Regions from separate parts of the Homo sapiens genome. Here regions 1, 2, 3, 4, 6 and 7 are each reported to be linked to region 5. The links are microRNA targets in miRTarBase. Many come from high-throughput screens and were not tested one by one. Region 5 holds a microRNA gene; each other region holds the end of a gene's coding sequence.

Region 1 (4,081 bases), not on the chromosome of region 5:
GGACAGGAAACCCTCTTAGGCCTGCCTCCTCGTGTTGATGCTGAAGCTAGCAAGTCAGTCAATAAAACAACAGGTTTGACAAGGCATATTATCAATACTAGTTCTCGTTTATTAAATTTGCGTCAAGTCTCTAAAACTCGCCTTTCTGAACCAGGAACCGATCTCGTAGAACCTTCACCAAAACACACACCCAACACGTCAGACAACGAAGGCAGTGACACGGAGGTCTGTGGTCCAAACAGTCCTTCTAAACGGGGAAACAGCACAGGAATAAAGTTAGTGAGAAAAGAGGGTGGTCTGGATGACAGTGTTTTCATTGCAGTTAAAGAAATTGGTCGTGATCTGTACAGGGGCTTGCCTACAGAGGAAAGGATCCAGAAACTAGAGTTCATGTTGGATAAGCTACAGAATGAAATTGATCAGGAGTTGGAACACAATAATTCCCTTGTTAGAGAAGAAAAAGAGACAACTGATACAAGGAAAAAATCACTTCTTTCTGCTGCCTTAGCTAAATCAGGTGAAAGGCTACAAGCTCTAACACTTCTTATGATTCACTACAGAGCAGGCATTGAAGATATAGAAACTTTAGAAAGTCTGTCTTTAGACCAGCACTCCAAAAAAATAAGCAAGTACACAGATGATACAGAAGAAGACCTTGATAATGAAATAAGCCAACTAATAGACTCTCAGCCATTCAGCAGCATATCAGATGACTTATTTGGCCCATCCGAGTCTGTGTAGCAGACAGGTCTATTTAAGCTTTCAAATGAACAGGGTAAAGTTGCATCTAAAGTACCACAGATACAACCATGTTTAAATCCTCGTATGCACTCTGGCCTGCTTCTCCAGTTACTTGCTTGTGTAAGAACAAAAATGAGAAAGGTTGTTTTCCAGTAAAAACATGACCAGCTTACTAATTGGTTGTTTTGGATTGCATTTATAGCTATGCTTTTTTGGGTTTATACTGGGAATTTATTTTTACTAAATTATTTAACTTTTCTAATTATGTAATTATGTAAGCTAGCTTTTCATGTTTATGTATGTATGGTGTCCCCTTGTGTTATTTTTCTTCCTCTTGGTTTTTGAATTAGTGTTAAATAGAATACTGTCTAGATTCTTAAAATATTTTCATTTCCATCATGGTTATAACAAATTTGCTGCATGCCCAAACTGACAACAGCAATCACTGAGGGAACAGGTTTTGAATCTTTCTTTTGTGTTATGAAGTTTATCGTCTCTACTTGCTTGAGATTTTTGTTATTTTGGGGGTTTGGGGGTGCTTTTTGTTTTGTTTTTGCCAAATGTAACATGAAAGCAGATGCTGCAGCTTTAGTCTGTTATGCTGATTTAGTAAAAAAAAATTTTTTACATATATTGCTTGCTTTCGATGCTTCTGTGAAATTTTTTTCTAAAGCTTTTGTGCAGCTGTATGGTAAAAATATGGTGATTAATTTGAAGAGCTTACATTGAAAGACAATGTAATAGGAAATAAATGTAGATTGCAGTTGGTCAAGAATTTTGTAGAGAGGATAACAAGACTTAATTACTGAAAAACAGTAACATAGCATTTTGAAATATAATCTTTTAAAATATTGATGCTTTCCTTTTAAATGGAAATTTAAATTTTATAATTAAAAGTTTAAACATTTATGATAATTTTCCTCATCAGTTCTCCCATAGGAAATAAAGCATGTGAAAGGGTATTTAAAGTTTTGGAGGACTCTTTTTAAAATGACTGTGTTGATAACTAGTTTGGGCTGGTTTTGTTTTAGAAAAAACATTTTCATGTAGGAGTATTCTGTGAAGGAAAGGAATCATGCAAAATATACTTTTTGCTTTGGCGTCTTACAGTTGTAAAGGAATGGTGATCATTCTGAATACTTCTGTAGTGAGTATTCATTAAGAAAAGAATGACAAAAATAGTATTCATACATAGGAATTGGGACCAGTTCTCTGAAAATGAAGATATACTCACACTGGGTCCATTTTACGGGTCCCAGTAACATTTGACTGAGGGAAAACAAGTAAGCTCGACTGTTGTTGGGGTACCTTAATGGTTTCGGTCTGTTATATACCTATAAAATAGACAAGTATATGTTTGTCCCTTTGTAGGTAACTGCTATGATGATTGCTATATAGTGAAACTGACATGAGTTTAAAACTAGATGGAGCAGCTTTTATTGCTGGCAGGAAAAAGCATGGTGTAATATTAAGGACTGGGGCCCAGGTCTAGACTCCAGGACTCCATAAAAGAGTTTAAGTTCAAGCCCTTCCATTAATGAACTGTGTAAGCATAGGCAGTTACAAAAGGACCCATCTCTAAAATGGGAATAATAATACTTTACCTCCCTCACAGTATTGTTGTGAGGGAAACAATAGCATAACTGCAAAAGTGCTTTGAACAGTAAAAAGATATACAAGTAAAAGGCATTATTTATATGAGTAAGAAAGACATTTTTGAGGGGAGAAAAGTTATTCCACTTTAAAAATCAATAGCCAAGTCTCATGCCTTTTGTTACTTTAGTAAGCGAAAATTTCAGGTACTAAATACCTTTCTTAGCCAAGTTTATAACAAAAACATCTCAGTATACTTCATTACTTATTTAAGCGTGATGTCTTTTTTTTTTTTTTTTTTTTTTTTTTTTTTTTTTTTTTTTGAGACAGAGTCTCGCTGTCTCCCAGGCTGGAGTGCAGTGGCATGATCTCGGCTCACTGCAAGCTCCGCCTCCCAGGTTCACGCCATTCTCCTGCCTCAGCCTCCGGAGTAGCTGGGAGTACAGGCGCGGCTAATTTTTTGTATTTTTAGTAGAGACGGGGTTTCACCATGTTAGCCAGGATGGTCTCGATCTCCTGACCTCGTGATCCACCTGCCTCGGCCTCCCAAAGTGCTGGGATTACAGGCGTGAGCCACCACGCCCGGCCACGTGATCTTATTTTAAAAGAACACTGCTATAGAAGAATTTACACACCAAATTCCCTGAAAGCTAAAGTATTGTTCCATAACTTACACTTGAGGCAATCTGCTCAGTGTGTAACCACTTTATAAAAAATAACTTACCATTGATAACCTGGAAGGTGGACTACTTGTAAGTAGCTGGTGTTTATTGATTAAACCATGGAAGTTTTCATGATACCCAAGCATGTTGCTGAAACTGATGCATTTGAAAGAGCTGTTGAAATAATGCAAAACTTTGGTTTTATAAGAATCTACTCATGTTTTAAAAGTATTTAACTCTGTAGACCACAATTATAGAAAGCTCAGTAATGCTGCTAATGACATTTGTAAACTATATCTGTAATGTAGTGCAATATTTTTATATTTCACTGGGAGAGGCAGTAGAGACATCATAGTTGTACTTTAGTGCAAGTGGGGGAACACTCCAAATAGCCTAGAGTATAGTAAGGTACAAAGCTTCAATGAAAAAAGCTGTATTATATTACATTACTGATGTAATCTTGCTGCCATGCTATGTATCAATAGCTAAAAAATAATAATAAAGACTACCACAGAAAACAAGAATATCTTCATTTAATGAAATCTTTAAAAAAGGTGATTGCTGCATCTCTATGGAATTATCTTCTGGTATAATTTGGCCATGCAGAAAAGCATAACAAAGTCCACTTTTCCTAAACAAAATTGCTGTTTTGCAGACTGCCCCAAAACATTTTTTTACTATTGTTTCCTTATGGATTATCAAGTTTATGGGTTTCCTTTGGCTATGTATTAGTAATTAGACTTTAAAATATATTTTCTACATTAGTATTAGCTGAGTGAATGGCTTAGACAAACTGAGCAACATTTTAGCATTATTAGCAATCATAATAGGCTATACTTCTTCATATCAAGCCTTATATTCAATATCAGAAGTACTTGAAATAAGTGGCTATTTTGTGATGCTGGGAGGAGAAAACACAACCTAAAAATTTTGAGGGGTACTATCAAGTTCTAAATGTATAGCTGAATTTTTTTTAAAGCAATTTGGAAATATTTGGCTCTTAAAAATAAGATAAATAATAAAATGTTAAGTCCCCTAAAAGTGAATAAATTTTAAATACCTACTTTTAAAAATACTGTCTTCTA
Region 2 (4,081 bases), not on the chromosome of region 5:
GCTTGACACATAGTAGTGGTTAATAAGATTCTTTAGCAACGGTAATAATTCCTTTATACCTCTCTTTCAGGCACAGATAGATCATTATCTAGGACTTGCAAATAAGAATGTTAAAGATGCTATGGCTAAGTAAGTATTTAAAATCTGCAGTGTTTTTACTAGGATAAGGTGTGCTGGATTGTGAGAACAGTATTTTCATATTGCAGGCATAATGAGTAACAAATCTCTATCAGACCTTAAGTGTGACTTCAGAGTTGCCAAAAGATTGTTTTTCTAACATTTGGACCATTCGTTTCTGGGTTTATTATGTGTTTAAGGCTTTGTTTAAATCTAATTCATGAGGCCAAGGTGGCAAAATTATAGCTTAGAATTAGGCAGCTTTAAGGATTTCATTTATTGTATTAGCTGAATAACATACAAGTAGTTCTTGGAAGATGGTATTTTAAGCAGCAGCAAACAAAACTGATATTTACATTGACTTTTTCATTTTCAGAATCCAAGCAAAAATCCCTGGATTGAAGCGCAAAGCTGAATGAAAACGCCCAAAATAATTAGTAGGAGTTCATCTTTAAAGGGGATATTCATTTGATTATACGGGGGAGGGTCAGGGAAGAACGAACCTTGACGTTGCAGTGCAGTTTCACAGATCGTTGTTAGATCTTTATTTTTAGCCATGCACTGTTGTGAGGAAAAATTACCTGTCTTGACTGCCATGTGTTCATCATCTTAAGTATTGTAAGCTGCTATGTATGGATTTAAACCGTAATCATATCTTTTTCCTATCTATCTGAGGCACTGGTGGAATAAAAAACCTGTATATTTTACTTTGTTGCAGATAGTCTTGCCGCATCTTGGCAAGTTGCAGAGATGGTGGAGCTAGAAAAAAAAAAAAAAAAGCCCTTTTCAGTTTGTGCACTGTGTATGGTCCGTGTAGATTGATGCAGATTTTCTGAAATGAAATGTTTGTTTAGACGAGATCATACCGGTAAAGCAGGAATGACAAAGCTTGCTTTTCTGGTATGTTCTAGGTGTATTGTGACTTTTACTGTTATATTAATTGCCAATATAAGTAAATATAGATTATATATGTATAGTGTTTCACAAAGCTTAGACCTTTACCTTCCAGCCACCCCACAGTGCTTGATATTTCAGAGTCAGTCATTGGTTATACATGTGTAGTTCCAAAGCACATAAGCTAGAAGAAGAAATATTTCTAGGAGCACTACCATCTGTTTTCAACATGAAATGCCACACACATAGAACTCCAACATCAATTTCATTGCACAGACTGACTGTAGTTAATTTTGTCACAGAATCTATGGACTGAATCTAATGCTTCCAAAAATGTTGTTTGTTTGCAAATATCAAACATTGTTATGCAAGAAATTATTAATTACAAAATGAAGATTTATACCATTGTGGTTTAAGCTGTACTGAACTAAATCTGTGGAATGCATTGTGAACTGTAAAAGCAAAGTATCAATAAAGCTTATAGACTTAAAATATGCTTTGGTATTTTCATTTCATGAAATTGCAGCAGATTAAAAATGCACACAGTGGGTAAACTGCTTCAACCAGCGAATGGTAGCTTGTGCTTTTAGAAGGGTTTTTTTCAGCTGATGGTGCAGCTGTTTGTTTGTTTACTGTGGAAACAAAAGTCAACAAATGTGTTTACATAATCAAATTTTATTTGACACATAAAATGTTTAAGTGATGTGTTTTATACTTTGAAAATAAATTCATGCACCAATGTTTTAACTCACATATATCATACAGTGCAGGATTTATGAACATACATAAAATCAAAATCATACCATATAAACGTTTACAAATAAGTTTTTCATGACACACGGACACTATTGCTCTTTAAATATGGTTGTACATGTCATCATTAATCGATTCATTGTTCTTCCACATGGTTATTTCAATGCAAGATCCGATCAGCATGAAGAGTCTAGTACAAGATAGGCAGACATGGTTATCACTCTGCATCACCAGTCACATGGTTACAGAAAACAGAATTGGGACTGCATAGGGACTCTACTGCGGGCCCAACAACCTATTAGTGGATTGATGTAAGGCATTAGTAAATTGGCATATAAAAATAGCTTAATGAGTGATCTAATCCATTTAGAATGCTGAAGCACTTCTGTGGTAAATGTTAGTCTATTCTACAATTGAAAATGCCTCATTTTACCTTTTCTCTAAACTGACAAATGCAAGTAGCCAGTAACTGTAGGTCTAGAATTTTCGTTCACTGACCAGAAGGACTAATAGGCGTCTATGTGCTCAGAACCACCAGTCCCGCACCAACTCTCCTTTCAGTGAGCACTGTCAGCCACATCCTGTAGTCACTGGTCAGCTACATGGAAAGTGTGACTGAGGGGCTTACGGATGGCTTCTGGTAAAGATTGTCCAAGTCATATTCCGTCATACAACCAACTCCAAGGAACTCTAACTCACTTTATAATTTTGATTTACCAGCTATTCCTTGGGTTTACAATTTGTTCTGCAGATAATTTTTTTATAATCTGGACTTGACCTATATAGTTCGCCTGAAGCAATCAAATGAAGTCACCTCAACTCCACTCAGGGTGGTACACCAAGGTGCAGCCTTGGGTTACCCTCATTTATCTTAAGATTTAACGAGATAAGTCAGCTCATTCTCATAGACCTTCCTGAGCCTTTTTCCCCTTCCATTTTGTAGTAGAAGTTTGTTTAACTTGAATTCTATTTTGGATTTTGTGGGTTTGGCATGAAACACAATGAAAACCCATAATTCTACCCTGTCCCGAACTTCAATTCCTTTGCTGCTCACCTTCCCATAAGCAGGTAACCGATGTCTTTCATTTAGGAAGCCTTGGCGTGAACACAGGACAAGGGTGACACACTGAATCTGCTAAGGGTCCTGCAGCCCTCCTCAGCTTTGAGGTTTTAGCACCATATGGAGAAAGGAGAAATTGGTGGGAGGTGAGACAGCAGCCCACACAACTGGAAACTTTCAAAGGCACTTAATGGATATAAAACTCTGCAAATGAAACATTTAAAAATTAAGTTTCTCAACTCCTTTATACATGGCTCATTTGGTTTTGAAAGCTAAACTGGAGAACAGAGGCTAGCGATATTTCTAGTACTTCGGTGCATCTAACTTAGGCTGTCTTGTTCAACTTATTTGTAAAAATGAACATTCTTGAAGTATATAGAAACAATAGCAAAACATCTTTGTAAAAGTTTTGATGCAAATTAAAAGCTACATATTGGTTAGGGTAACCGAGGCTTCAAAATTCGTCAGCGGGCTACATTATCAGATAGGATTTCTTTGTCAATGTAGTTAGTATGTATACTGTTTAGTCTCAGGAACAGAGGCAAGCAGTCTTTAACATTTTAAAACTTGACCTTCCTTCGTGGCATCACGGTTTTGGAGAGTCCAGATTATGGGAGCAGTTGTGTAACTTCTGCAGCGTTTTGAGCTTGTGCATCCGGGGCAGCATGGTAGGCATTTCCCAACGGCTGGTGGCAAGGAGGCACCTCAGCATGGCCTCTGCAGTTGCTGGCTGGTAGCAGCAGCAGCAATAACATAAGAGGCTTCTGGCATTTTACAGACATCGCCACACAAATACACTGAAAAGGCAGATCAAACAGTCATTTTGCATAGCTGGACATCATACTTGTGTCAAGTGGCAAAAAACAATCTTGCCAAGTGCTCAAAAGTCAAGCTCGGGTGATGTATTGAACATTTTGACTTCAAAAGGTAAACCAGGGATCTTGCCACCAAATTAAGATCTATTGCTTTTCTTAAAAGGTCTGTTTTTTTCAGTTGAGTTCTGTTTGGTTCTTTCAGCAGTTTGAATGTCTGTGCTAAATGTTGGTCCGTGAGGACTTCTGGCACTTTGATATCACACTCTCTCCTGTTACTATTGAAAAGGTTTATCACCTCCACTTGAGTCAGAGAGCCCTTTTGAGTGTTTAGCACAGAACCAGGGATCACAGCATGCTCCCATGCCTACAAAGGCCTGCAAGCCCTGCACGGTTAAGGCCACTTCTTTTTTATATTAAAACAAGTCTGTATCCCCTGCATTGG
Region 3 (4,000 bases), not on the chromosome of region 5:
GAGACTGAAGTGCACAGAGAAATGTAGAAGATAAGCCTGAAACACGAGGTAGGAGTTAAATGGTGGATTGCTTGAATGTCAGACTGACTTTAGAATTCTGTCTGGAGAGGAGATTCTTTGACTATTTCAGCAGGGTGGTGATAATGGGACCTAGGAAAATAATTCTGAAGAGAGGGAAAGGTCAGAGTGCCCAGAGGCAGGGAGAGCATTGCAAAAGTTCAGATGAGAAAGTATGTGAGACTAAAGTAGGGTGGTGGCAAAGGGCAGAGGAAGGAAACCAGGAGCCATTTCAAAGGGGGACTCAACAGGAACTAATTAGGGCAATGTGGAGGGTTGAGTCCAATCTATTTCGTGGTTTTGAGTGTGGAAGGCTGTGTGGAGGTTTTGAAGATGACTGGGATCTAATTCCCTACCACTCGAATCTGGAACTGTCCTTAATGACAGACTTGTCAGGAGTCCAGTGGAATGTGAAGAAAGTGACACTACATAACCTCAGTGGTTAGAACAGAAAACCACCATACTGCCTTTGCCTTTTTCCATGGAATTCGTGCTCTGAGCCACCCATAGGCAATGCAGCCTGCAGTCCAAGATGAGCTGAGCCTTTGAGTCATCCTCACCTATGTACAGACATGCAAGTCAAAAACCTGCAGAAGATTCCTGTCTCTAAATATTGTAACAGCAAAAGACACATGGAAGGATAAGTCATAAAGAAACATTTGGCTTTTCAAATCTTGTACTCCTTAGCGTGCAGAAGCACTTATCTCAAATACTCTGCTGACTAGGAGGGTCAGCAGAGTACAGTGATGAACAGAAAATAGTGGTTAAAAATTTGCTCCAGAGAATTGACATTTCTCCCCTCCAGACACCCTTTATTACCATGAACCTGCATGCATAAGACAGTTAGGTGTTCAGGCCATCTGGAGGTGCACTGTGGTCTTCAGGTAGACTGAATTAACACCAGTAAGAAATTGAAAGAGAAATTCACTTTGAATAACAGTAGGATAATCTGTTTTCCAGTAGTTATGCAATTCTTTTCAGACATAGTCTAATCCATAGTAGAAATACGTGGTTATTGAAGAACTGAAAACAAATGCACAGAAAAATTTTATCTTCATTTACCCGCCACAGCTTTAAACACAACTAAATAGGCTAGCATTTTAGCATTATATCATCACTATGTAGTGATTTTCTATTTTTTAAAAGCTAAACTGAGGTTGATCTGAACATTTGTTCCTATATGCCTATATTTTTCCTAGTATTAGATTTATTGAAGTATTATTCACATATACAATAAAATTCCATTTTAAGTTCAGTGAATTTTGATAAATGTATATACAGTCTAGTAACCATCACAATCAAGATGTAAAACATTTAAATCACCTCAAAATACTCTTTTGTCCCCTTTCACAAATCTGCATCCCCTAACCCCTGCCATCCATTGATCTGCTTTCTGTCATTAAAGCTTTGCTTTTTCTAGGTTTTCCTATAATGTAGTCATATAGTAAGTACTTTTATGTGTGGCTTTCACTTGGCATAATGTTTCTGATGTTCACCCATGTTACTGTCATTAGCAATAGTTATTCCTTTTCATTGCTTAGTATTTTAATATACGCATATATCACAAGTTGTTTATCTGCTCACCTGCTGTTAGCCATTTGGGTTGTTTCTAATTTTCAACTATTGAATAAAGCTGCTATGAAAATTGAGTACAAAACTTGTATTTTTCTTGAGTAAAATACCTAGGAATGAGGAACTATGGCATTAGCATAGCTGAGCCTTGAACAACACAGGTTTGAAGAGTTTTGCTTCTTCGCAGATTTTCTTCCACCTCTGCCACCCTTGAGAGAGCAAGACCTACTCTTCCTCTTACTACTCCCACTAAGCCTACCCAACATGAAAACAATGAGGATGAAGACCTTTACGATGATTCACTTCCACCTAATGAATAGCAAATATATCTTCTTTCTTACGATTTCCTTAATAACATTTTCATTTCTTTAGCTTGTAAGAAGAGTATATAATACATATAACATAAAACATGTGCGAATTGACTATGTTATTGGTCAGGCTACCAGTCAACAGGAGGCTATTAGTGATTAAGTTTTGGGAGAGTCAAAAGTTATACAAGGATTTGAAACTGCATGCAGTAAGGAGGAGTTGGGGCCCCTAGCCCTAATGTTGTTCAAGGATCAACTGTACTAAGAAATATATGCGTTTTCCTATATTATCCTGGCAACAAAAAATATAAATATTTCTTAGTCTTATTTAATAATAAAATTTATTAGCAGATCTCTTGTAAGACAGTTGAAGAATTCATACATTTTCCAGCCCCAAAAAGGCCACACAGAATCACAAACATTCAACGTGTTCCACGATAATGATATGTATGAGATGCTCTTCCTTATAAACTTTATTACGAAGCAAATAAAATAATACATTCATAATATATGAACAAAGAAATCATACATTAAGAATCCTGTTGTGATTTGCTCTTAAGAGCAAAGAGCTGCAGAATCTCTAATATAAAAAAGAGGACATTTTCAATGTGTCCATTTTCCTAAGAAACGTGTGTATGAAATGCCTCCAAGTTTCTCATACTATATATACTTGCTTTAAAGAAGGAAATTATTTCTCATTTCATTTTCCAAATGAGAAACATTGCCTAAATTCATGACATCCCTAGGATTATTCTTAGTCTCAACTTCCACACAGAGATGTCTGAAATAGAAAACTCTTAAGTATCAGAATTCAGGGATATAAGCTTTCACATTCAAAAGTGCAGAGAATCCCAACATTAACAAACAATGGTTCCACAAAAATCAAAATTACAACTTAGACATCTCTAAAATAATAGTAATGTCACTTTAGAGTTTACAAACTACAGAAATAACTGAATTGTAACACATGCAGAGATTATTTCAAGTGCTTCTAAATACCTATTAGAAAAATGTGTATCTATTTGACAATATTATGTTCTCTGGAGAAAGATATATAAGGATTACAGCAGAGACTTCAGTATTGACAAAGTAAAATTTTTACCTTCAAGTTGCATTCTAAAATTACTATGAAGTCTCAACTTCACTGAATTAATGAAAATAAAATATATTCCACGACAGATTTTTGTGGCACAAATGAAAACTTTAAAAAATACATGAAACAAAAACAAGATGAGAGATTTCCTGATACATATAATACTATTTATATTCCCTTATCTCAATACTTGGAAACTCAATGTCCTATTTTGTAAACTAGTCATATAAAATGACACTAGAAGTATAAATGAGGTTTAATCAATTGACTCTGACAATCTGCCATCTCACCATTCATCACTGACAGCATCCAAAACATGTTATCATCTGCCCACGAGGTAGGGTGCAGAGTGGAGAAGACTAAGGCACGGGTAACTGCCACACAGTGGCAAAGTGCCGACCAGTGGCATGGGGAGCACACATCGTGTGCCCTCCAAACCCCTGCACAGCCATTCTGCCTGCATCAACGCACCCAGTCCCTTGGATGGCGTAGAACTTCCAGAATTTCAGCTTCTTTGGAATTCTCTGAGGGTGAATGCATGTACTCCCATCTATGCATGTCCAAAACAAAAGCAAAAAACGTCATAAAAAATGACACACATACCTCTTTACTTAAAATAAATGAAAAATAAAATCCTAAGAATAAAAAAAAAAAAAGCCTTATACTTCTTTGTCTCTACTGTGCCTGATGTGCCTTGTACCAACTTGACCTTTAAAAAAACTATTTGCCAAACAAATAGTTTCTTAACAACTCTTGGGTATGCTTTGGCTAGTATTAATATCCCAGAGCCAAAATACACCTTTAATATAAACCAGGGTTTCATATAGTGTAGAAACTCAGGTGATCCATGGGCAAACCTTCTTTAGCTTAATACTTATGCATACCTCTTCTCAGAAAAACAAATAGGCAGAGAAGGTCCATCTCACCTCCTAGCCACCATGACTCAGCCTGTGTTCTCTCTCCCTCTAGT
Region 4 (4,081 bases), not on the chromosome of region 5:
TTTCATACCCTCTTATCTCCATTCTAAATGATCTTCAACAGGTAGTGTCTCCTAACCTTTTACTTAGTTCTCTCTACCACCCAGCCTAGCCAGTATGTTAATGAGTTAGCATCTGTAAAGCACAAATAAAGAGCTACTATTTAGAGGAGTCCTTTGTAAATCAGATAATTATTTTGTATTATGAATAATTACAAATTACACCCTAATTGATCTGTATAGTAAATTAAGGTTTTTGCATGGGAGATTCCTTAAGAGGCTTCAGTATGAGCAAGTTCTGAGGGATCTTGGAGGTTCCTTTGTCTTGTTTTGACTTAAGAATCTTTTTTTAGAGTAATCTTGAGCACTCCTGAAAGAAGCTAACTATGGTATAGAAAAGGATAACCACCACGTAGCTGAAGGCTAAGATTCAGGTCCGAACTCTCGAACTAACTAGCTGTAACAAGCTGTGTAACCCTGAGTAAGTTACTCTGCCTCTCTGGGCCTATGGCTTCATCCATAAAAACAGAGGCGATGGGCTAGAATCACTAGTCCCTTCCAAGTCTAATAATCTGTCTTTCTAAATGGAATTACCTGGTCCCAATAGGAATGGTCTCATCTTAAACTAGGTTGAGCTATATGTTTCTGCTGGTCTTTCACATTGGTAATTTTCATAAACAGCGTAAACAATTATGACACACCCTGCGGCAGTCTCTAATTACAGTGTTCTTCCTTTCAGATCCAGTCTATTCAAGGCATTGAGAATGTACCTGAAGAGCTCCTGGATAAAAATTATTCACTGTGTGATTTGTTTTTAAAAACTTGCTTCATGCCCTACAGAGGTGCCAGCTATTTCTGTTGATACTATGTATAATTTATTAATCTGGAGAATGTTTAAAATTTTATATAATTTAAAGGTAACAGATATTATTGTACATAGTTGTATTTTGTAGTTTCTTCTGTAAATATGTATTTTTCATAATGTTTAATATTAAGCTTTATATAATACTATTTTTCCACACTAAAGTGTTCATGACTTGTTCTACATAAAACTAATTCAACCTGTATGACAGGACTACTGGTAAAATGCATATGGAGGTGGTGGCAGAGACAATCCTTCAGGCCATGTTTTCTACCTGTTTTGATATTCACTGGACAGGAAAAAGGGCAGGGCTAGAGAGAGCAAATACTATGGCTAGATTTGCTGCATTGCTGTCCCATGAATCTCGAGAGCCAACAGACATGTCCTAACTTGCTATTAGGACAAATGTGACAGTCAAAAAAAGGATTAGAGGGAGGGAGAAAAAAGAATTAAGCAGTACCAAAGCTGAACTAGATGCTTGTGTCTGAACTAGTTGCTCTCTCTCTCCTTTCTCCTTCCAGGGATTCAAGCCAAAGTGGTCAGCTCAGGGATCATGTAACTTGCAGTGCAAGCCCAGGATGGTAGGATGCAGGGTTGAGGGTTCTGATAGAGAATGATTCCAAACAGAAGTGATGAATTCCTTTTGTTAATAAGATGCCAGCTATACCCAGACTGGAAACATAACATGCAAAGCACTATCTACAGTGATTAGAGATCCTTTCATTGCATTCATGGTGTGGAGTGTGAACATCCACACCCATACTGTAATGTATTTATACACACTAGTTTCTGTCTCATTTTCAGTGGTCTCCATTCCTAGAAAAGTCACAATTATCCATTCCTACTTGATTTCCCATTAAAAGAATATTATGGTAGCAGATTGTGCCCCTCATTAAAAGGCTTAATGCCAACATTTTCATAGAAATGACTACAAACATCATATATAGTAAATTTAAAAACAATAGCAAAAACAAAAACAGTGGTCTTCAGTAAAATTTTCAAAACTTCTTTTAGTAAATCAATGAAGTCAAAATGTCAAGTAATCACCCAAAGTTGCATTTAATAACAAAAGGCACTACATACTGTACCAAGTTTATCTTCAATATTTGTGCCTTACTTACTTTGACTATAACAAATTCCAATGAGTCAGAAAGTATTTCCTTCATCAAGGTCCAGTTCCGACAGCATTCCTGGGAAAAATTTGAAAGGAGTTTGTACGGAATCTTCATAGATACCTGAGAAGATGAGCTGGAGATGTTTGCCTTTTTCACACTACAAATTTTTCTGTAATAAACTTGGGAATTAGAGGTCAAGTTTGTTGATGGCATAGCTTCCTTTGCATAAAGAGTATATTTCTTTTCAAAGTATATATTTTTGTAACCTACCATAAAGTCCGTAAGTGAATACAACGAATGTAATTGACATAATAATTGAAAATCATTGACTATACCTAAAATAGTTCTTTATAATTAAATAACTCTACACCCAATCTGGAAATTTTTCCAAGGTTATTTGAAGTTTACAAAAATGTGAAGCATAATCATAAGCTTCAAAGATTCACAGTTTCATTGTGCTCAATGCTCTTGTGAAATGACAGTCTTAAGCTCTGATTCTGTATCAAGGAACTAAGTGAATCTTCTGGAAATGAAAAGGAACAACATATGTGTAAGTGCAGTAGATGTACCACCAGCGAGAAAATAGAGGTCAGAGATCTACAACGTGTGGCATCCATTAGAAATCACCTTTCCTACATTGAAAAGAAAAAAGAGAAAAAGCAGAATTTTACACTAATGTTGCTTGATGCAAAGCACATTAATGCTTGGAAGGATACATTCATTTTCGACTTTTCATTCACTCAGAAAACTTCTAGTAAGTATCTGCAACCTGCTAGGCACTGTTCCAGAATCTACACATTTCTACTCACATAAAGAGAATCCTCATAAAGTTAGGATTGTTGTTACTACCTTCAATTGAGCTTAAAAGACAGCCTCATCAAGGGAATGGGATAACTGAGCCAGTCTAGGACAGTGGTCACCTTCCACAGGCCACACACTGGAAAGTGCTAATGCTACTTTAATAGCAAACCTCTGGATCTAGGAGAGAGAGCAATTAATTGCACAAACCAGGAGTTAAAACCATAAAAAAAACCTATGCATCTGTAATAGTAAATAACACTCACGTACTCTGGCAACATCTAGGGTAGTATCAGAATTATGTAAATGGACATGACAGGGAAAAATCGTAGGTTTTTTTAGTCTAATCCAACCCAGGAAATGTTTATTCCTACCCTACACCTAATTTTAAACCTTCTTAGCAACAAATATTTCACTATTCGCTCCTACTCCTGGGAAGACTAAATATATAATTGACTTATTTATTAAATTTAGGAGAAAAAAAAAGTTTTCCTTGACATTCAGCTCTATTGGATTTATTTCCATTTAATTGCATCATGTGTTATGTCTTGGTAAACACTCCATTTCCTGTCTTGGTGGGCATCCTGTCTGTGTACCTGTGCAGTACACTTTAATCATCAAGACTTCAAAGTGCTTTTGAGCTATCAAATCTTGGGAGAGTCCCATCTAGCATCTTAATAATTATTTTTCCAAGTTCGTTATAATTAACTCCTTTAACCTCATCTCATTAAATCAATTTTGTATTGTCATTCTGTTGTTCTCTGGAAAGCAGCCAATTGTTCAGCTCTTGAATCAGAATTTTCAAAGACTCACCTCTCTTACCTGGGCTTGCACATATTTGTCCTAAGTAATTCTCTATCCCTTAAACCTCTGAGTCCCTCTGTTTTATTACTTGCCCCACTCCTCCTACTTGAATATGTTTGTTTTCCCAGTTGAATGTGATTTTTATCTACTGTTCATATTATCTTTTATACCCATGAGTATAATTTCATAGTCCTTTCAGGTTCCACATCATCAAAGAGATGACCATAATTTCACTTTTTTTTGAAATGAAGTCTTGCTCTGTTGCCCAGGCTGGAGTGCAGTGGCACAATCTCAGCTCACTACAACCTCCGCCTCCCAGGTTCAAGCGATTCTGCCTTAGCCTCCCAAGTAGCTGGAATTACAGGTGCCTGCCACCATGTCTGGCTAATTTTTGTGTTTTTAGTAGAGATGGGGTTTCACCATGTTGGCCAGGCTGGTCTTGAACTCGTGACCTTAGGTGATCCACCCACCTCAACCTCCCAAAGTGCTAGGATTACAAGAGTGAGCCACCGCACCTGGCCAATTC
Region 5 (4,081 bases):
TTGAGGTTCATGGATATGAATTTAAACTAACCAAAACTTCAGGTTCCTGTGCTAGGAGCTATTTTGAGCTTATTCCTGGAGCTATAACAGGAAACCATACCTGTTGAAGTGGAAATACGACCTTTGCCCTCCCTCTCCATCTCAATCACCCGAAGGCCTCTTTCGACATAGCTCTGGAAGAACTGTGAGGAATTTTTCAGAAATGGTTCAATGTCAGCATCTGAGTATTTCTTCTTATATTCATATAACTCTGCTAGTCCCTGGTGAACAGGAAAAGGGAAGAGGTGGGGATGAATGTTAGTGTCCCTTTACCATAAAGCAGACCCCTATTCTGCTTAACCCTTTCACTCTCACCTCTTTAGTGTTTTCTTTAGAGCCAATCTTCTTAAAAATCTCAGCTAAGAAATCATTCACTTTGGCCTTTGATGATTTTTCATCCTGAAAAGTTGAAAGACATAGGAAGAATTGGTTAGACTTGAGTTATTAATTAGGAACTGATGGTTGGATATGAACAGAAAATATCTCAAAATCTGGGCCTTATTGGTATGTTCCTACAGATAACAGATGCACCGATGATGCAGGTCTTGCAGCAGAAGCACTAACATTCTGTGTTACTGAATGCCTCCAGTCTCAGATTTCCACCTCAACTTGATGGAGAAGGAACTGACATATTCTTTCCATGTTAAGCAGAACTAGCTATTTATCTGGTGACCAATGCCTTAGGCATCTTTCTTGGGGACCAAAAAACACATGGTTATACTTAGTTTAGATTTTAAAATTTCAAGGTGGAAATGGTTACTGCACCACAGCAGGAGACTGATTCAACCAGTCCATGAGCCTTCACCTTGGACCTTCGGAAAGCATATCCTGGTGACCTACACCTTAGATAAGATCACTTCCGGTGTAGCCTCATGTCCCTCAATCTTTCAAGTCAGGCCACTCACTATTCGAGATGCTCCCTTTTCTGTTTCCTTATCAGACTTGCTCCCAGTCTGGTCCATACTGTGCTTCATCATCCGGCAGAGATGGGCCTCCAGCTCAGACTCGTTTTTGTTGTCGATCATCGTTAGGTGGTCCAGGATCTGAGGGAGACACATGCATGACTGATAGCACTGCCATTTCCATGATTTTCTCTCAAGCTCCCTCAGAGACCAGTTGCGATTCTTACTCACCTTGGGCCCTTTTAATTTGCATAAGGTGTGTAGCAGGGTCTTTAGGGTCCTTATGGGAAATTCACTTTTGCATTGCTTCAGTTTCTCTTTGGGGAAGACCTTCATGAAAATGTGGATATCCAGAAGAATTCTGTCTAGGTTAATGCTATTGATGGTATCAGGCAACAGTCGAACCATTCTCCAGAGACACTATTGAAAAAAGAATAAAAGAGTTAGGAGTGACTGAAGAATGAGGATAATTTGTCACCATTCATCTTCCCTAAGCTTTGAGCTCACTTCTAAAAGATGGCCAGGGCTATAAATGTGGCACATCATATCTTTCAAGTTCAGCTGCTAAAACATGAAAATTTTTAATCACTTCTACCATGACACCAGCTGAAGTGTGTCCAGTCATTCATCTAATCATCCATCTCTACTCCTTCCCACTCCCCAGAGCTAGGGGCCATCATTTAACCTGGTAGAAATTCTCTCTTGGGTTTCCTTCGTTCCTGAGAGTAAAGTAGTTCATGTTGCTTAACCAAATCTAATGCAAGGGGACAAAATATCTGATACTAATTCAGTGTAATAACAGTATTACAATGTTATAAATATGTTCATTTGGTCTCTTTCACAAAAGAGACCAAATATCATAGGGCTGTAGATATCTTTTTCCCCAAAATAAATGAAATCTGTTTCAAACTTCTTTCCTTTTGATCCTCAGAGAATTAGTAAAATATTTACAAAATATTTCCTCCCTTTCACTGTTTGAGGCCACGAACTGTTTAGGCCTGAACTTAGAATATAAATTGTAGGAAGGGAAAAACTGAAGACCAATTCATATATATATATATATATATATATATATATATACACACACACACACACACACACACACACACACACACACACGTGTATTATATACATATATAACATATTAAGATATACATATATAATACATATATACATATATATAATACACATATATATAAAAAACCATATATATATTTTTTAAGAGATGGGGTCTCACTGTTGCCAAGGCTGGAGTGTAGTGGTATGATCAAGCTCACTTCTGGGTTCAAGTAATCTCCTCAACTCAGCCTCCTGAGTAGCTGCTACTATAGGTGCATGCCACTGCACCTGGCTAAATTTTTAAAAATTTATTAATATTTTTATTACGAAAAATATATTTTCAGGTGTGACTTGGTTGATTTGAGCCTATGTCTTTCTTAGCTCCAATTCCTCTTTCCCCATACTTTTAACAAAGTGATTGCATCTTTGAAAGAAAAGAGATCAAATCATTTCAACTTCACCTTCATAACAAGCTCTGAGAATTTGGGAGAACTGGCTGTTGCTAGCAGGCTGTCTTGGAGCAAAACAAGTAGGGCACTGGAAGAAAAACCCAACACAACAGCATTAAGTTTCAAACCTGCATTCCAATTAGAATCAGCAGTTGAAAGGGCAAGTGAGATTACTCTATTCATCTAATAAACTGAGAGGTCATGGATCAGGAATTGTCCTGGACTACCTGACATTCAGTTAAGAAAATAAACATTGTTTAAGCCTTTTAAGTCACCACTTGGTAAGTGTAAGGTTTGTGACTCTATTTTTCATTGTCATTGGTAGCTGAGAAAGAATAAAATGTACCTGAAATGTACAAGAAAAATGTAACTGACAAACTTTACAGTCCTATTATAGAAAATGCATGATATTGGCTGGCTAACTAAGTATTTACTAGTTTTAGCTATGGTCTCAGGCTAAAATACCTTTGGTCCATGATGAAGAAGAGTAATAAATCAACTTCCTAGGCACACTTAAAGTTTTAACTGATATAGTTATAACTGATGTAGCTATAACTTTAAGTGTGCCTAGGAAGTTGATTATGATTGTTAGGTTGCCTAGGAAGTTGACTTACGGACATTATGGTTTCTAAGTGTAAACAAAAGCGAGGATGCCCCAGGCTCTATTGGCTGAGAGTACAGATATACCTCAGGATGTTGGTCTGGTCTGACTTCTCCAGAACCTTCACCACCAAGAGGTTCACAGAGCGGATGACCTGTTGTCCTTCCTCAAGATCTTCAATCCGAGAATCCAGCATTAAGGTGATGAGGCCATGCATTAGGTCTTTTAGTACTCCAGTGGAGGCCTCCCGGGCAAGGCTCTCTATCTGAAACAGCTATCCAGACATACTTGTGTCAGGGAGGTGTAAAACTCAATATAGAGAGTAAAGAAATGTGGGTGGCATATTCTGATAAATATTCAATTATGTTGTATTTTTTTTTTGAGACGGAGTCTCCTCTGTCGCCCAGGCTGGAGTGCCAGTGGCGTGATCTTGGCTTACTGCAAGCTCTGCCTCCCCGGTTCATGCCATTCTCCTGCCTCAGTCTCCCGAGTAGCTGGGACTACAGGCACCCACCACCACGCTGGGCTAATTTTTGTATTTTTTTTTTTTAGTAGAGATGGGGTTTCACCGTGTTAGCCAGGATGGTCTCGATCTCCTGACTTCGTGATCCACCTGCCTTGGCCTCCTGAAGTGCTGGGATTACAGGCGTGAGCCACCGCGCCCGGCTATGTTATATTTGTAAAAATTCAGAGTATTAAAGAAAAAACAAAATCACCACACTCCCCCAAGCCTCTAGTAATAGGCAAAATTAATCGGTGTGCTTCTAATTGTGAAATTTTTTGTTTTTTTTTTGAGACAGAGTCTTGCTCTGTTGCCCAGACTGGAGTGCAGTGGCACGATCTCGGCTCACTGAAAGCTCCGCCTCCTGGGTTCAAGCAATTCTCTGCCTCAGCCTCCCGAGTAGCTGGGATTACAGGCGCCCGCCACCAGGCCTGGCTAATTTTTTGTATTTTTAGTAGAGATGGGGTTTCACCATCTTGGCCAGGCTGATCTTGAACTCCTGACATTGTGATCCACCCGCCTTGGCCTC
Region 6 (4,081 bases), not on the chromosome of region 5:
GATTGAGTACATACACTTTGGAATCAGACTCAGGATTTGAATCTGGTTTTGCCATTCACTTGTATAACTGGACAAATCAGTTTCTTTGGATGAGCCTTAATCATCTTGAAGTGGGGATAATTCTAATAACCTCATGGAATTACCACTGGATTAAATGAAATTTGTAAAGCCATACATAGCTCACTGTCTGGCGCACAGTAAGTGCTTAGGAAGTAAGGTTTTAAAACTGCCACTTAATGTGATTTATATTTATCTCTTTCAGGTGAATGAACTTCAGAATTTGTCAAGTGCAGAAGTTGTTGTCCCTCGTGACCAGACACCTGATGAGAATGACCAAGTGGTTGTCAAAATAACTGGTCACTTCTATGCTTGCCAGGCAAGTGGGCTCTAAAATAAGCTATTGTATCTTTCTCACGTGGAAGCAATTCTCCCACAGGTGCTCCTACCTGATAGAATTAGTTAAGGTTGTTTGATGCTTAAGACTTTTCATCTCCCTTTTAGCGGGTGATTTCAGAGACTACTAGCAAACTGACTAGTATGTATCTTTAATCATCAAATGGATTTCTATTTGAAATTGTTGAAATGAAGGAGTACAATAACTTTTAGTAGCTTTTGATCAAGTGGAATTTCAAAGCTCTGTCCTTTTCTAGGTTGCCCAGAGAAAAATTCAGGAAATTCTGACTCAGGTAAAGCAGCACCAACAACAGAAGGCTCTGCAAAGTGGACCACCTCAGTCAAGACGGAAGTAAAGGCTCAGGAAACAGCCCACCACAGAGGCAGATGCCAAACCAAAGACAGATTGCTTAACCAACAGATGGGCGCTGACCCCCTATCCAGAATCACATGCACAAGTTTTTACCTAGCCAGTTGTTTCTGAGGACCAGGCAACTTTTGAACTCCTGTCTCTGTGAGAATGTATACTTTATGCTCTCTGAAATGTATGACACCCAGCTTTAAAACAAACAAACAAACAAACAAAAAAAGGGTGGGGGAGGGAGGGAAAGAGAAGAGCTCTGCACTTCCCTTTGTTGTAGTCTCACAGTATAACAGATATTCTAATTCTTCTTAATATTCCCCCATAATGCCAGAAATTGGCTTAATGATGCTTTCACTAAATTCATCAAATAGATTGCTCCTAAATCCAATTGTTAAAATTGGATCAGAATAATTATCACAGGAACTTAAATGTTAAGCCATTAGCATAGAAAAACTGTTCTCAGTTTTATTTTTACCTAACACTAACATGAGTAACCTAAGGGAAGTGCTGAATGGTGTTGGCAGGGGTATTAAACGTGCATTTTTACTCAACTACCTCAGGTATTCAGTAATACAATGAAAAGCAAAATTGTTCCTTTTTTTTGAAAATTTTATATACTTTATAATGATAGAAGTCCAACCGTTTTTTAAAAAATAAATTTAAAATTTAACAGCAATCAGCTAACAGGCAAATTAAGATTTTTACTTCTGGCTGGTGACAGTAAAGCTGGAAAATTAATTTCAGGGTTTTTTGAGGCTTTTGACACAGTTATTAGTTAAATCAAATGTTCAAAAATACGGAGCAGTGCCTAGTATCTGGAGAGCAGCACTACCATTTATTCTTTCATTTATAGTTGGGAAAGTTTTTGACGGTACTAACAAAGTGGTCGCAGGAGATTTTGGAACGGCTGGTTTAAATGGCTTCAGGAGACTTCAGTTTTTTGTTTAGCTACATGATTGAATGCATAATAAATGCTTTGTGCTTCTGACTATCAATACCTAAAGAAAGTGCATCAGTGAAGAGATGCAAGACTTTCAACTGACTGGCAAAAAGCAAGCTTTAGCTTGTCTTATAGGATGCTTAGTTTGCCACTACACTTCAGACCAATGGGACAGTCATAGATGGTGTGACAGTGTTTAAACGCAACAAAAGGCTACATTTCCATGGGGCCAGCACTGTCATGAGCCTCACTAAGCTATTTTGAAGATTTTTAAGCACTGATAAATTAAAAAAAAAAAATTAGACTCCACCTTAAGTAGTAAAGTATAACAGGATTTCTGTATACTGTGCAATCAGTTCTTTGAAAAAAAAGTCAAAAGATAGAGAATACAAGAAAAGTTTTTGGGATATAATTTGAATGACTGTGAAAACATATGACCTTTGATAACGAACTCATTTGCTCACTCCTTGACAGCAAAGCCCAGTACGTACAATTGTGTTGGGTGTGGGTGGTCTCCAAGGCCACGCTGCTCTCTGAATTGATTTTTTGAGTTTTGTTTGTAAGATGATCACAGTCATGTTACACTGATCTAAAGGACATATATATAACCCTTTAAAAAAAAAATCACTGCCTCATTCTTATTTCAAGATGAATTTCTATACAGACTAGATGTTTTTCTGAAGATCAATTAGACATTTTGAAAATGATTTAAAGTGTTTTCCTTAATGTTCTCTGAAAACAAGTTTCTTTTGTAGTTTTAACCAAAAAAGTGCCCTTTTTGTCACTGGATTCTCCTAGCATTCATGATTTTTTTTTCATACAATGAATTAAAATTGCTAAAATCATGGACTGGCTTTCTGGTTGGATTTCAGGTAAGATGTGTTTAAGGCCAGAGCTTTTCTCAGTATTTGATTTTTTTCCCCAATATTTGATTTTTTAAAAATATACACATAGGTGCTGCATTTATATCTGCTGGTTTAAATTCTGTCATATTTCACTTCTAGCCTTTTAGTATGGCAAATCATATTTTACTTTTACTTAAGCATTTGTAATTTGGAGTATCTGGTACTAGCTAAGAAATAATTCTATAATTGAGTTTTGTACTCACCATATATGGATCATTCCTCATGTATAATGTGCCCCAAATGCAGCTTCATTTTCCAGATACCTTGACGCAGAATAAATTTTTTCATCATTTAGGTGCAGCTTGTTGTGTAGTATGTTTTATTTTTGGTTTTCAATTGAATGGGAATGTTCTGAATTTTTTTTCAAACTCTACGCAGATTTCTGTTATACCATGTCCAGCCATGGTACTTAATGTGAACCTTGATAATACTCTTGCATATGAACTAAGAACTAGAGCGTTCAGAGTTTTTCCTAACAAACACTTTGTTTACTTTCTTGTGTTACTGGAGTATTCTGGAAGGGTTACAGAAGTCCTCCTAGAAGAATATTATCACCTCAAAGTATAAAAATAAGACCAGTGGGCTATGTTTTATATTATTTTTTAAAATTTTTGCCATTCCATTAAACAAACAGGGTTAAGATTTACATTTAAGCTAAATTAAATTAATAAAAATCTGAGCAGAGAAGTCAAGCACAGGAGCCAGTGCTAACTCCAGGAAATTCTGATGACATTTCCAGGATAAAGGCAGCGTGTCATAAGTTTTGGGTAGAATGTACTGATTTTTGGTTGCAGGTATAGCTCACTTATCGACAGTCTCTGCATGCCAGTTAGCAGGAGTGCCCATGAGGTACACAAGCCTTGTCCTAAGAGCAGCCTAACCAAGGAGACGGACTTTAGGAGCTGTATTTTCCAATAAGTGACTCAATCCAAATCTGAAATGACTAACGCAGTGCATAAAATATTTTATTCACATTTTAACTCCACTGGAGTCACAGATGAAGTATCATCTTCTATTCCAAGAATGAAGTCTTCAGGTACTGTCTCAGGTGCTATCTGAGCTAACTGGTCATCATAAGAACGTAGGGTCCATAATTTCTCTAATTCATAGATTTCTCTGGTTTCTGGAAGCATCAAATGAATCACCATGCTGCCTGTCAGGGACAGATAAGAGATACAATGAAGGAATAGTTCATTTGCTTTTATTCTTACCTTACAACACACACTGGCTAACTCTAGGAATAAAGCAGTGGTTCTCAAGTGTGGTTCCCAGATTAGCATCACTGTGGACTCCATCCCAGCAAAAATACCACAGAAGTGATGCTATGCCTTTCTCAGTGTACCTACAGGAGGCATATGTCAATATATAACATTGCTGGTGATAGTAACTTTATCAAAGAGACTAATGGTGTCAGGATTCTCTTCGGTGACAATTCTCCATGGGTAACACACTTCTGCACATCTTTTGTGCAAAAACACT
Region 7 (4,081 bases), not on the chromosome of region 5:
TCAGAATAACCAAGATCTTTATCTTTGCTGGGGTACTACCCCAAGGCAATTTTTTTTGGATACCATTTTTTAACCTTGACATAGTGGATACATCATTTCTTCCTCCATATATATTTTTCCTCCATTAAAAAAGAAACAAAAACTTTTTTATACCTGGGTTTTGCTCTTGATTTAGCTCTCAAGGTGGTCCTTGTTTACTTTTTAATAATCACTGCTCTTCATCTGTCAATATTTAATTGGTATGATTTATCCCAAAATTGTTTATAGAAAGTCAGTTTTTTGTTTTCAACTCTAGATCTTTGTTCCTGTTCCTCGAGCCTGGTGGTCACCCTCTGGCTTCTGCTAGGCAATCTGTTTCCTCTGCTGGCTGGATTTCTTCTGTGTATATGGCACTAGGAATGGAAAAGTGGATCTTCAAGATATTCTTTTATGTTATGTTCTTGTGAACAAAGCACAAAGTTTGAGTGAGTGCCAACCTATGCAGATGGTAGAAGTGGCATTCCTGGCTTTGGCTTGGAAGAATTGACGACCATCAGACCTTGAAGCAGAACTTCACAGCAGCCTGTCCTCATCAGCAACCCAACCACCTTCATCAGCAACCCAACCACCTTCATCAGCAACCCAACCACCTCGTCAGCAACCCAACCACCTCGTCAGCAACCCAACCACCTCGTCAGCAACCCAGCCACCTTCATCAGCAACCCAACCACCTCATCAGCAACCCAGCCACCTTCATCAGCAACCCAACCACCTCATCAGCAAACCAACCACTTTCATCTGCAACCCAACCACTTTCATCAGCAACTCAACACCTTCATCTGCAACCCAACCACCTTCATCAGCAAACCAACCACCTTCTTCAGCAACCCAACCACCTCATCTTGGAGAAGGAGAAGGAACTGCAAGCCACCAAGTCTTCATTTTTCAGGGTTTGTAATCTTCCCAAAGTTTTCCTTTGAAAATAGGATAATGGGTGGAATTTTCAGAGTGATTACATACCTCAACATTTTTATTAACATACAACAATGGGAAAGTTCATCATCCATATACTGCAGTCACTTAAACAACAGCCAATTATTGCAAGATTAGAATTGGAGATCTTGTCCTCAAAAGTATAAATTGTCCTTTGAGTTATAGAAAATAATGGAATTGGGATTTCTACATATCATTATTATACCTATTTTAAATTTAATGGCAGCCAGGCATGGTTCCAGCTACTTGGGAGGCTGAGGCAGGAGGATCGCTTGAGCCCAGGAGTTCAAGGCTGCAGTGAGCTATGATTGCACCACTGTATTCCAGCCTGCACGATAGAGTTAGACCCTGTATCTTAAAAAAAAAAAAATTAATGGCTGGTATATAGTAAACTTAATTCACTGTTCCCATTGTTCTAAAGAATTTTTTTAAATAATGTTTCATTAAATCTTATGATTTAACCGTGCTTGCCCTTTTTGCCAGCTATGTGGCAGTTTACGGCAGAACTGCTGTCAGTGTGCTGGTAGCCCTCTATTCATCCCTCCTCAGAGCCCAGCTTCCAGAACTGCTATCACTGTGCTGGTAGCCCTCTGTATTCATCCCTCTTCAGAGCTCAGCTTCTGGTTGTATTCTCCATGAGTTTAATAATGACATGAAAAAATGTGGAAGCCGAGAGAGTAAAATACTCTGCCCTGTAAAAACATGGAAGACATGCAAACAGAAAAAAAATAATTGTATTGTTTTAGATAATACTTAAGACAACTGTGAAACAACAAAAACACAACTATTCCTTTGTGACCGATGAAGATAAAAAGAAATTCTGGTAAAGACGGGTATGCAGTTTTTTAAAATGGGTTAAGAAATTGTTGCAGAAGAATTTCTAACATCTGAAAATGGTTTTATGTTTAAGAAGGATGGTCTGAATTGTGTACTAATAGCAAGGTATAAGTTTGGTGTAGAGCCTATCCAGTAGCGTCCACTGTACCACTTTTAAGTAAGACTCAGTCCACAGAAGCTGGAAGATTGCCTTCGCTTTAAATATCCTTTACCTTCTGCATTTGACACTCCTCCTGTTACTACATAGATTCCGGTCCCCAGAAGCAATTTTACACTGGTACTAGAGCTTACCAGCCCCATTTAGTAATTTTTAATGGCTAGATGAGGTTTAACAAGAATATGAAAAGAAAAAAGAAAAAATATATTCATGAATGATAGGCGATGCCCATTCTTTCTCTCAAGCTAATGAAGTCCTATGGCATTCTAACCACAACCCTCGGACAGACTCCTCCTATTCCTCCATGGCATTGTAACCACAACCCTCGGACAGACTCCTCCTATTCCTCCATGGCATTGTAACCACAACCCTCGGACAGACTCCTCCTACTCCTCCATGGCATTGTAACCACAACCCTCGGACAGACTCCTCCTACTCCTCCATGGCATTGTAACCACAACCCTCGGACAGACTCCTCCTACTCCTCCATGGCATTGTAACCACAACCCTCGGACAGACTCCTCCTATTCCTCCATGGCATTGTAACCACAACCCTCGGACAGACTCCTCCTATTCCTCCATGGCATTGTAACCACAACCCTCGGACAGACTCCTCCTATTCCTCCATGGCATTGTAACCACAACCCTCGGACAGACTCCTATTCCTCCATGGCATTGTAACCACAACCCTCGGACAGACTCCTCCTATTCCTCCATGGCATTGTAACCACAACCCTCGGACAGACTCCTTCTGTTCCTCCTTTCCTCGTCCTTCCCTGCTTTTCGTCCATTCAGCATATAGCTATTCAGTACTCCATTGAAGAAATTATGCTAAGTGAGCAAAGCAACATAATTACTAAGAATTAATTCTGATTATTTGGCACTAGAGCCAACAGCAACCCCAGCACAGAGGAAAGTCGCTTTTTTTTCAAATGCATAAATTTAAAGTATGTATTTGCATGCAGTTTTAAATGGGAGGTATTTGTCATTGTGAAAAGCTGGGAATCTCAAACATAGTCAACTTAACTAAAAAGAAGCTAATACAGGTTGAGCATTCCTAATCCAAAAATCCAGAATCCAAATTGCTCCAAAATCTGAAACTTTCTGAATGCTGACCTGATACTACAAGTAGAAAATTCCACATACAAGTACTTAACACAAACTTTGTTTCATGCACAAACTACTAAAAATATTGTATAAAATTACCTTCAGGCAGTGTGTGTAGTTATATATGAAACATGAATTTCATGTTTAGACTTGGGTCCATGCCCAAGATACCTCATTAGGTATCTGTAAATATCCGAAATCCAAAAAAAAGTCTGAAATCTGAAACACTTCTGGTCCCAAGCATTTCAGTAAGTGATGCTCAACCTGCGTAATGGTCTGCGGGCCAGTGCTCATTTTCTGCCTATGTTGTACATACTTTAAATTGTGTAAATTAAAAGTCAAAGCAAAGAGTCTATTTTTAAAGAAACTTACAATAATCTAAACATATACTTCTTATGATTATGAATCATCCTGCAAAGCTGAATGAAGAATTTTACCAAAAATACAATGAATTAATCATATATTTGAGAGTCACAGTGATAGGTTCGACTATATTTTGACTGTTGTGTAGTGGCACCGTTTAGGTAGTATTGTTTCTGAGCATGGTGCTTTTTATACTTGAAATATATTTTTGCTTTATTTTTTATTGATATAATTATATTTGCACTAATGGCTTTCTGAAGAAAATATTATAGATGACATTTTTTGTATATATATTTATTAAGCTTGGGAACCTGGTCGCCCAGTGTTTTCTCTGGACAAATGTGAAACTGGATAAAGTATGGATAAAGTCTTGAGTTCCTCAGGGTAACTGTGTTGATGTCTCCCGTCCTCTTCAGTAAGGCTTGAATATGATTTTACTCATCATTGATTCTGCATAGTGTACCCAGCAAGACTTAGAAGGACACTGAACCTGTCAGAGATTTTAAGAGGCACATTTTAGTCACTTTGAATATGGTAGTGGTGGGCGCGGTGACTGAAGCCTGTAATCTCAGCACTTCGGGAGGCCAAGGCAAGCAGATCACGAGATCAGGAGTTTGAGGTTACAGTGAGCTGATCGCACCACTG

The links. Region 5 holds the annotated microRNA hsa-miR-5582-3p (UAAAACUUUAAGUGUGCCUAGG, at 2,952-2,973, opposite strand). A microRNA usually pairs through its seed, bases 2 to 8, with sites in the 3' UTR of a target mRNA and lowers its output. Matches are read on the target gene's strand: a 7mer-m8 pairs with bases 2 to 8, a 7mer-A1 pairs with bases 2 to 7 and ends in A, and an 8mer does both.
Region 1: miRTarBase lists PDZD8 as a target of hsa-miR-5582-3p. Seed matches in the 3' UTR shown: 7mer-m8 at 1,708-1,714 and 7mer-m8 at 3,120-3,126.
Region 2: miRTarBase lists EML6 as a target of hsa-miR-5582-3p. Seed matches in the 3' UTR shown: 8mer at 3,386-3,393 and 7mer-A1 at 3,022-3,028.
Region 3: miRTarBase lists CPOX as a target of hsa-miR-5582-3p. Seed matches in the 3' UTR shown: 7mer-m8 at 3,135-3,141.
Region 4: the mRNA of PTPRB is a reported target of hsa-miR-5582-3p. Seed matches in the 3' UTR shown: 7mer-m8 at 3,236-3,242.
Region 6: the mRNA of IGF2BP3 is a reported target of hsa-miR-5582-3p. Seed matches in the 3' UTR shown: 7mer-m8 at 850-856, 7mer-A1 at 1,219-1,225, 7mer-m8 at 1,617-1,623, 7mer-m8 at 2,093-2,099 and 7mer-A1 at 2,451-2,457.
Region 7: miRTarBase lists LMLN as a target of hsa-miR-5582-3p. Seed matches in the 3' UTR shown: 7mer-m8 at 946-952 and 7mer-A1 at 2,930-2,936.

The regions. Positions count from the first base shown.
Region 1 is chr10:117,279,928-117,284,008 of GRCh38, reverse strand. It overlaps PDZD8 (PDZ domain containing 8), which reads left to right. Exons shown (of 5, transcript NM_173791.5): 5 at 1-4,081. The coding sequence ends at 741. Among named protein-coding and RNA genes, the nearest start is that of SLC18A2-AS1, 40 kb to the right of the region's middle.
Region 2 is chr2:54,969,611-54,973,691 of GRCh38, reverse strand. It overlaps EML6 (EMAP like 6), which reads right to left. Exons shown (of 42, transcript NM_001039753.4): 42 at 1,667-3,621. The coding sequence ends at 3,597. RTN4 (reticulon 4) reads left to right here. Exons shown (of 9, transcript NM_020532.5): 8 at 71-129; 9 at 494-1,503. The coding sequence ends at 536. Among named protein-coding and RNA genes, the nearest start is that of RTN4, 79 kb to the left of the region's middle.
Region 3 is chr3:98,577,191-98,581,190 of GRCh38, forward strand. It overlaps CPOX (coproporphyrinogen oxidase), which reads right to left. Exons shown (of 7, transcript NM_000097.7): 7 at 2,256-3,580. The coding sequence ends at 3,493. Among named protein-coding and RNA genes, the nearest start is that of CPOX, 14 kb to the right of the region's middle.
Region 4 is chr12:70,518,146-70,522,226 of GRCh38, reverse strand. It overlaps PTPRB (protein tyrosine phosphatase receptor type B), which reads left to right. Exons shown (of 34, transcript NM_001109754.4): 34 at 716-4,081. The coding sequence ends at 738. It overlaps PTPRB-AS1 (PTPRB antisense RNA 1), which reads right to left. Exons shown (of 9, transcript XR_001749196.2): 4 at 1-4,081. Among named protein-coding and RNA genes, the nearest start is that of PTPRB-AS1, 52 kb to the right of the region's middle.
Region 5 is chr11:46,750,174-46,754,254 of GRCh38, forward strand. MIR5582 (microRNA 5582) reads right to left here and starts at 3,019; the gene lies at 2,952-3,019. It overlaps CKAP5 (cytoskeleton associated protein 5), which reads right to left. Exons shown (of 44, transcript NM_001008938.4): 37 at 3,137-3,324; 38 at 2,462-2,537; 39 at 1,173-1,361; 40 at 945-1,082; 41 at 355-438; 42 at 101-260.
Region 6 is chr7:23,309,030-23,313,110 of GRCh38, reverse strand. It overlaps IGF2BP3 (insulin like growth factor 2 mRNA binding protein 3), which reads left to right. Exons shown (of 15, transcript NM_006547.3): 14 at 263-376; 15 at 651-2,902. The coding sequence ends at 749. MALSU1 (mitochondrial assembly of ribosomal large subunit 1) reads right to left here. Exons shown (of 4, transcript NM_138446.2): 4 at 1,382-3,755. The coding sequence ends at 3,568. Among named protein-coding and RNA genes, the nearest start is that of MALSU1, 12 kb to the right of the region's middle.
Region 7 is chr3:198,038,272-198,042,352 of GRCh38, forward strand. It overlaps LMLN (leishmanolysin like peptidase), which reads left to right. Exons shown (of 17, transcript NM_001136049.3): 17 at 296-4,081. The coding sequence ends at 396. LMLN-AS1 (LMLN antisense RNA 1) reads right to left here and starts at 1,196. Exons shown (of 4, transcript NR_046669.1): 1 at 1,178-1,196; 2 at 876-953; 3 at 477-587; 4 at 50-392.